2 separate regions of the Homo sapiens genome follow, and region 1 is linked to region 2. The links come from fine-mapping of genetic effects on gene expression. A gene starts in region 2. The other region holds a variant in brackets. All regions are shown on one strand. Distances are from middle to middle.

Region 1 (2,905 bases), 49 kb after region 2:
ACAGGGTTTTGCCATGTTGCCCAGGATGGTCTCGAACTCTTGGACTCAAACAATCCACCTGCCTCCGCCTCCCAAAGTGCTGGGATTACAGGCATGAGCGGCTGCGCCTGGCTAAGAAGATTCTAAAAACTCAGGAGTTGGAGGTACCTGGTACTTCTGGCCATGCAAGTGAATGAGCAGGGCACCAGCCAGGCTGGAGAGGCTGTTTCAGAAGCAGATGCTGGGCAGGGCTGCTGCTGTGGGCTCTGTCTGCACAGAATTCTGAGCCAACAGTATGCACTGCCATGACTTACTTCTGGATTTCTTCTCCCATCCTGGCAGAAGGCTATGTTAAGGGTGAGAAACCGTACTGAGAAAGTCAGGGTTATTAGGTAAACAGTCCCATTGGATGCTGAGATGTTAATCTCTTTCCCAAGGATGCTGGCAGGAGGCTGAAGTTACCTTCTTGCAGGATTCAGACGATGGAACGAAACATGCTTGGAGGAAGAGTGCCCCCAAAATGGCCTAGCCACATTGCCCTATGGATCTGTTTGCAGCATCCACTCATACTCAAGCTGCTTGCTCACATACCCTAAGAAAAGGGTCTCCTTGGGGAGTGGGGTTCCCCTATGTCCCTTCCAGCCAGTAAGCCCCACATCTACCTGCTCAGAGCTGTCAGCCAGATTTGTGGTGCCCCTCTCTTGCATATAAGCCAACAACTAGGAGAGAATAGAGAACACACTGTTTTTTTTTAAAAAGTTACTGCTGTTCTCAGAGAAATAAGGAAAGACATTGTAAATGAAAGAACAACAGGAGACAGCTAAAAAGATGAACATTCAGAGAATAAAAACACTCTTGGAAAGTAAAAATATGCTACAAGAGACCAGATGAAGTAGCTCATGCCTGTAATCCCAGCACTCTGGGAGGCTGAGGTGGGAGCATCACTTGAAGCCAGGAATTTAAGACCAGCCCTGGCAACATAGTGAGAACCTGTTTCTACAAAAAAATAAAAAAATTAAAAATGAGTCAGGTACAGTGACACATGCCTGCAGTCCCAGATACTTGGGAGGCTGAGGCGAGAGGATCACTTGAGCCCAGGAGTTCAAGGTTACAGTAAGCTATGATGGCACCACTGTGCTCTAGTCTGTGTGAAATAGTGAGACCCCCTCCCCCCACCAAAAAAAAAGCTACCAGAAATGAAAATCTTAACAGAAGGTCTGAAAGATACAAGTGAGAAAATTTCCAGGAAAATAGAGTAGAAAGACAAAGGAATGGAAAATTGGAGTGAAAAGATAAGAACATTAAAGGACCCATCCCAGATGCCAATAGCCAAGTAAGAGGCATCCCAGAAACAGGGAGCAGAGCAATAGAAGGGAAGGAAATAAAAAAAAATTTCAAGGCAGTTTCCCAGAACTGAGAGATGTGAATTTCAAACTGAAAAAGCTCACCAACAATAGTGATAAAAAAAGGTCTGTGACTGTACTAATAAAAA[G/A]AATTCTTCCAGCCAAACTTCAATCTAATGTTGAGGGCTAGACAATGTGTTTCAGATATGGGACATGTCAGAATTTTATCTTCCACACCAGAACACCCACAAAGCTCCACCAAAACAAAGGTGTGAACTAAGAAAGAGGAGACCCTGGGTCTCAGGAACAGGAAGGAACATAACAGAAGATGGGTTGTAGGAGGAGCCTGGATGATGCCAGACAAAGGTGGTGGCTGAGAGGTAGATGGCAGGGGGCCTCTGGTCCGTAATGCTTCGATGATTGGGCAGGATCCCTATCCTGTGTCAAGGTCCCTCCTGCCCACCTGCTCTGTCTACTAACCTGCTGTCCTTGTCAGGTCCCAGCCCTACCTGTCCTGATGCCTGACCAGCAGGATGCAAGCCCAGGAGGCCATCCAGGATACCAGGACTGGGAGAGAATGTGGGTACGGGGAATACTCGCCCTGCTTGCAAAAGGTTTTACTAGGGTGGGGAGTTTCTAGAAAGTAGAGGGGCTGTGGGATCAGTGGTAGTGGTGGGTGGCTTTTTTTGAGGGCAGAAGATGCTAGAGGAGGTTGAACCTTATAGGGGATGATCTAGGGAATGGGGGAACTTGGGGATGCTGGAGTAAGAGGGCTGCCTGCGTAGGGCCAGGAGTGGGGTCGGCAGAGATGGTGCTGTCCATGCGGAAGGCCTAGTCCCACCACACCCCATCTCACTTACCTGGGGAGAAGATGCCCCCAGCTTCCTCATGCCACAGGGCCCTGGGGTGCTCCCTCCATGAGGGACCCTCAGGCCCAGTCTTGCTGTGGGGAAAGATCTGGTCCAGCACGGTCCCACATCTCTGAAATCACAGTGGTCACTGCTCCTCTGTGCCTGGCTGGGCTCAGGGAGGGACCTACCTGACCCCACCCAGCAACTTCCAGGGAAAGGAGGAGAACATGGACCTGGGCAGGACTTACCTGGGCCTCCTCAGGCAGGAGGGTGGGTACAGACTCCTGGGTGGCAGCTAGAGGCCCAGACTCCAGGAAATCTAGAGAGGAAAACTGGTATCAGGCAGCCTGAGTGAGTTTCCACCCCACTGCCCTTCTTAGTGGTGTGCCAGGTGCTGGGATGCAGAGAGGTGGGATTCTTGGTTGTGGGCTTGGGTTGGGGAGGGCAGTGCAGGGTAGCTGAGGGCCCAGCTCAGGGGCTGGGTGAAGCAGAGTACCCTGGAAGGCCAGGGGTTGAGCTGCAGTGGGATGAGATGGGCTGAGGTTTGTGCCCCTGTAGCCGTATGTGAACCATGGGGCAAGGTGGTCAGCGGGGGTCAGAGGTATTGTACAAGGGTCCACATAGGAATGGCAGGGTGTGAGCAGCTAGTTCAGGTGCCCTGCCTGGGAGGTGAAAGGGGTCATACCCCTAACACTACGAGGTCCTCCCTCAGCAGCTCCTAATTATACCTCT
Region 2 (2,905 bases):
CTAGTCACTAAGGGCTGAGGGTAAAAGGTTGGGCAGTACCTTGGGAGATGCCCCAGGGAAACCAGTACATGCTCCCTGGCAGCCCCTAGCATAGCGAGCAGGGAGGTGGCTCCTGCAGCCCCAGCTTCTTGCCATCTCGATGGGGCCTGTGGGGCCCAGGGTGTGGGTGTGGCACAGAGAGGGGAAGTGTGGATTGAGCAGGGGTGTGTGACTGGATAGCTGCCCATGGAGTAATCGGGGACACGGCCCAACATCAGGCACCAGAAAGGGGAGGGGGTAGTCCTCAGAGGACTCTGGAATCTGAGGAGTTCTGCTACTCCATCCATCAAGCAGGTAAACCGTGATCCTTCGGCCTGTTTCCCCTTCTATCAAACAAGGGATGAGATACTCGGCTCATCCCGCACCCAGACTGCACACACCTCCAGTCTAAGGGAGGAGGGTAGGAGCTCTGGACTCTGACATCCGTATAGGCTCCACCAGCCTGTCTCTCCCTTGGAGTCACAAAGCCCCAGGGTGGGCTCGGCTTGATGCTGCCCCTACACCCTCGGGCTCTACTGGGGTCTCAAGATTCAACCCCTCCGACTCCTTATGCCCAATCCGCCGTCCCTTTGCTCAGCCAGACGCCTCCCTTTTTTGCATGCCCCACATTTGACCCTCAGACCACTTCGAGCACCTCCACTGCCCCGTTCCCGCTGTCCTGGACGGATGAAGAAACCTGGCTGGTGTCTCTGCGCCCCTCGCCTCCCCTTCTGTTCCCCACACGGCAGCCAGAGGGAGCTTTTCCAGACTACGGATCCGGATACACCACCCCGCTCCCTGGCCCTGTTCTGAGCCTTCTGTGCAATGCCTCAAAAAAGCCAGGCCTGTGCCCGCGCAAAGGCTAACTCAGCAAGCAGCACCGCCCCATCTGTATTCACCTAGCACCTGAAAGGATTCTAATCTGTCCGGCCGATGGGGACGGAAACTTGCGCATCAACCCGAGAGACTTGAACCTTCCTTTCCCGCCCCGCCCCGCGACGGGCTCCATTCCTCAGTCCCGACGCCGCAAGGCCGGCCTGGACACTTCAGAACAAAGGCCTGCACTCGAGACCCGGCGCCCAGGCCAGCTTCCCGGGTCCGGCGCCGCACACTCCCGCCACGCCTTCGCCGCGCCGTGTGCTTTACTCCGAGCGCGTTCTCCCATACTCTGCTCCATTGCCCGCGCCCCACCCTACGCCCAAAGCACCCCTCTGACCCGCCGCTGCCACCCCGCACTCTGGCCCCCGCCGTACCCCGGTCCTGCAGCGCCCCCTCGCGTTCTCAGCGTGCGCTTCTAGCGGAGCGCAGGTGCCCCTCCCCTGGCACGCCCCAGCCTCCTCGCCCGCCCTGCGGCAGGGGGATGCCCATTCGACCCCACCTCCGACTCCTCTTCAGGCACCAGGCTCTGCCGTGGCCGCTTCCTCCTGACCGACTACAAGGCCGCACTTCCGGGCCGTTACCCCGGCGGAACGGAGGCCTGCGGTCGCGGCGGCGCAGGGGAAACCCTAGGCCGAAGCACGTTTCCGGTATTTTTATGGCGATCAGCTCCCGCCAGTCTGCACTCCGGCTCTCCTCTTAGTCGGAACCAAAGTCGAAGAGGCTAGGGCTGCCGCGTCGCGAGGAATGTCTGGACCAGAGCACTCTTCCGGCGTCGCCCAGGAGATCAGGGGTGTGGCGGGCCTGCGCGATCAATCCGCAAGCTCCCTGTGATGCAGAATGGGAAGGCAGTTCCCGGCCCAAGTGCCCAACGTGTTCTGGCCAGTTTAAACCCCACTGCGAACCGGGGAAGTGGCCTTATTCCTGTGACACGGGTGAGAGCTGAAGTAGGTCTCGGTCCCTGGCCGCCAGGAGGTGCAAGCAAGCTACCACTACTGCAGACGCTCCAGGCCCGCCCGCTGTGGGTGGGACTGGGGAAAGGACCCCATCTCGGCCTTGGCACCTTCTACTACAACGCAGACAGGAATAGACAACTGCCTCACCCTGCTCTGGGCCTCCCCTGAGCTAGACCCTGTGAGATTCTGGGACATTGCAAGTCAATCTGGTATGGGGGACAGAATTCCGAAAATGGCCCCCTCCGAGATTTCCGTGCCCAAATCCCCAGAACCTGTAAATATGATTATCTCACCTATGAATAGTTACACTACATGGTGAAAGGGTTTTTGCGGAAATAATTAAGGTTACTCATTAGCTGATCTTAAAATAGGATATGATTCTGGATTATTTTGGTAGGTCCAAGGTATCATAAGGGTCCTTAAAGGCAGAAGAGGAAGGTGGAGAAACTTGAAGTAGGAGAAGGGTTCCAGAGGCTTTGAAGGTAGAGAGGTCCATGAGAGGAAATGCAACAGGACAGGTGTCATGCTGAGAATCTGAGAAGAGCTGCAACAACAGCCAGCAAGAAAACAGACCTCATGGCCCGGCGCAGTGGCTCATGCCTGTAATCCCAGCACTTTGGGAGGCCAAGGCGGGTGGATCACGTCAGGAGATCGAGACCATCCTGACTAACACAGTGAAACCCCATCTCTACTAAAAATACAGAAAATTAGCTGGGCGTGGTGGCAGGCGCCTGTAGTCCCAGCTACTCGGGAGACTGAGGCAGGAGACTGGCATGAACCCGGGAGGCGGAGCTTGAAGTGAGCTGAGATCGCGCCACTGCACTCCAGCCTGGGCGACAGAACGAGACTCCGTCTCAAAAAAAAAAAAAAAAAAAAAAAAAAAAAAAGGCCGGGCGCGGTGGCTCACGCCTGTAATCCCAGCACTGTGGGAGGCCGAGGCGGGCGGATCATGAGGTCAGGAGATCGAGACCATCCTGGCTAACACGGTGAAACCCCGTCTCTACTAAAAATACAAAAAAAAATTAGCCGAGCGCGGTGGCAGGCGCCTGTAGTCC

What was found. PIP is the estimated chance that this variant, and not a neighbour inherited with it, causes the effect. A credible set is the group of variants that fine-mapping cannot tell apart.
Region 1: its variant is the best candidate, but not a certain one, in a credible set for the expression of ZBTB45 in whole blood (TOPMed, PIP 0.53).

What each region holds. Positions count from the first base shown.
Region 1 is chr19:58,567,095-58,569,999 of GRCh38, forward strand. MZF1 (myeloid zinc finger 1) reads right to left here. Exons shown (of 6, transcript NM_198055.2): 4 at 2,422-2,492; 5 at 2,183-2,303. It overlaps MZF1-AS1 (MZF1 antisense RNA 1), which reads left to right. Exons shown (of 6, transcript NR_027334.2): 2 at 1,819-1,901. Among named protein-coding and RNA genes, the nearest start is that of MZF1, 4.8 kb to the right of the region's middle. The variant G/A (reference allele first, on the strand shown) is at 1,472.
Region 2 is chr19:58,518,346-58,521,250 of GRCh38, forward strand. It overlaps ZBTB45 (zinc finger and BTB domain containing 45), which reads right to left and starts at 1,465. Exons shown (of 3, transcript NM_001316979.2): 1 at 1,397-1,465. RefSeq lists enhancers at 1-372, 1,430-1,749 and a silencer at 1,240-1,339.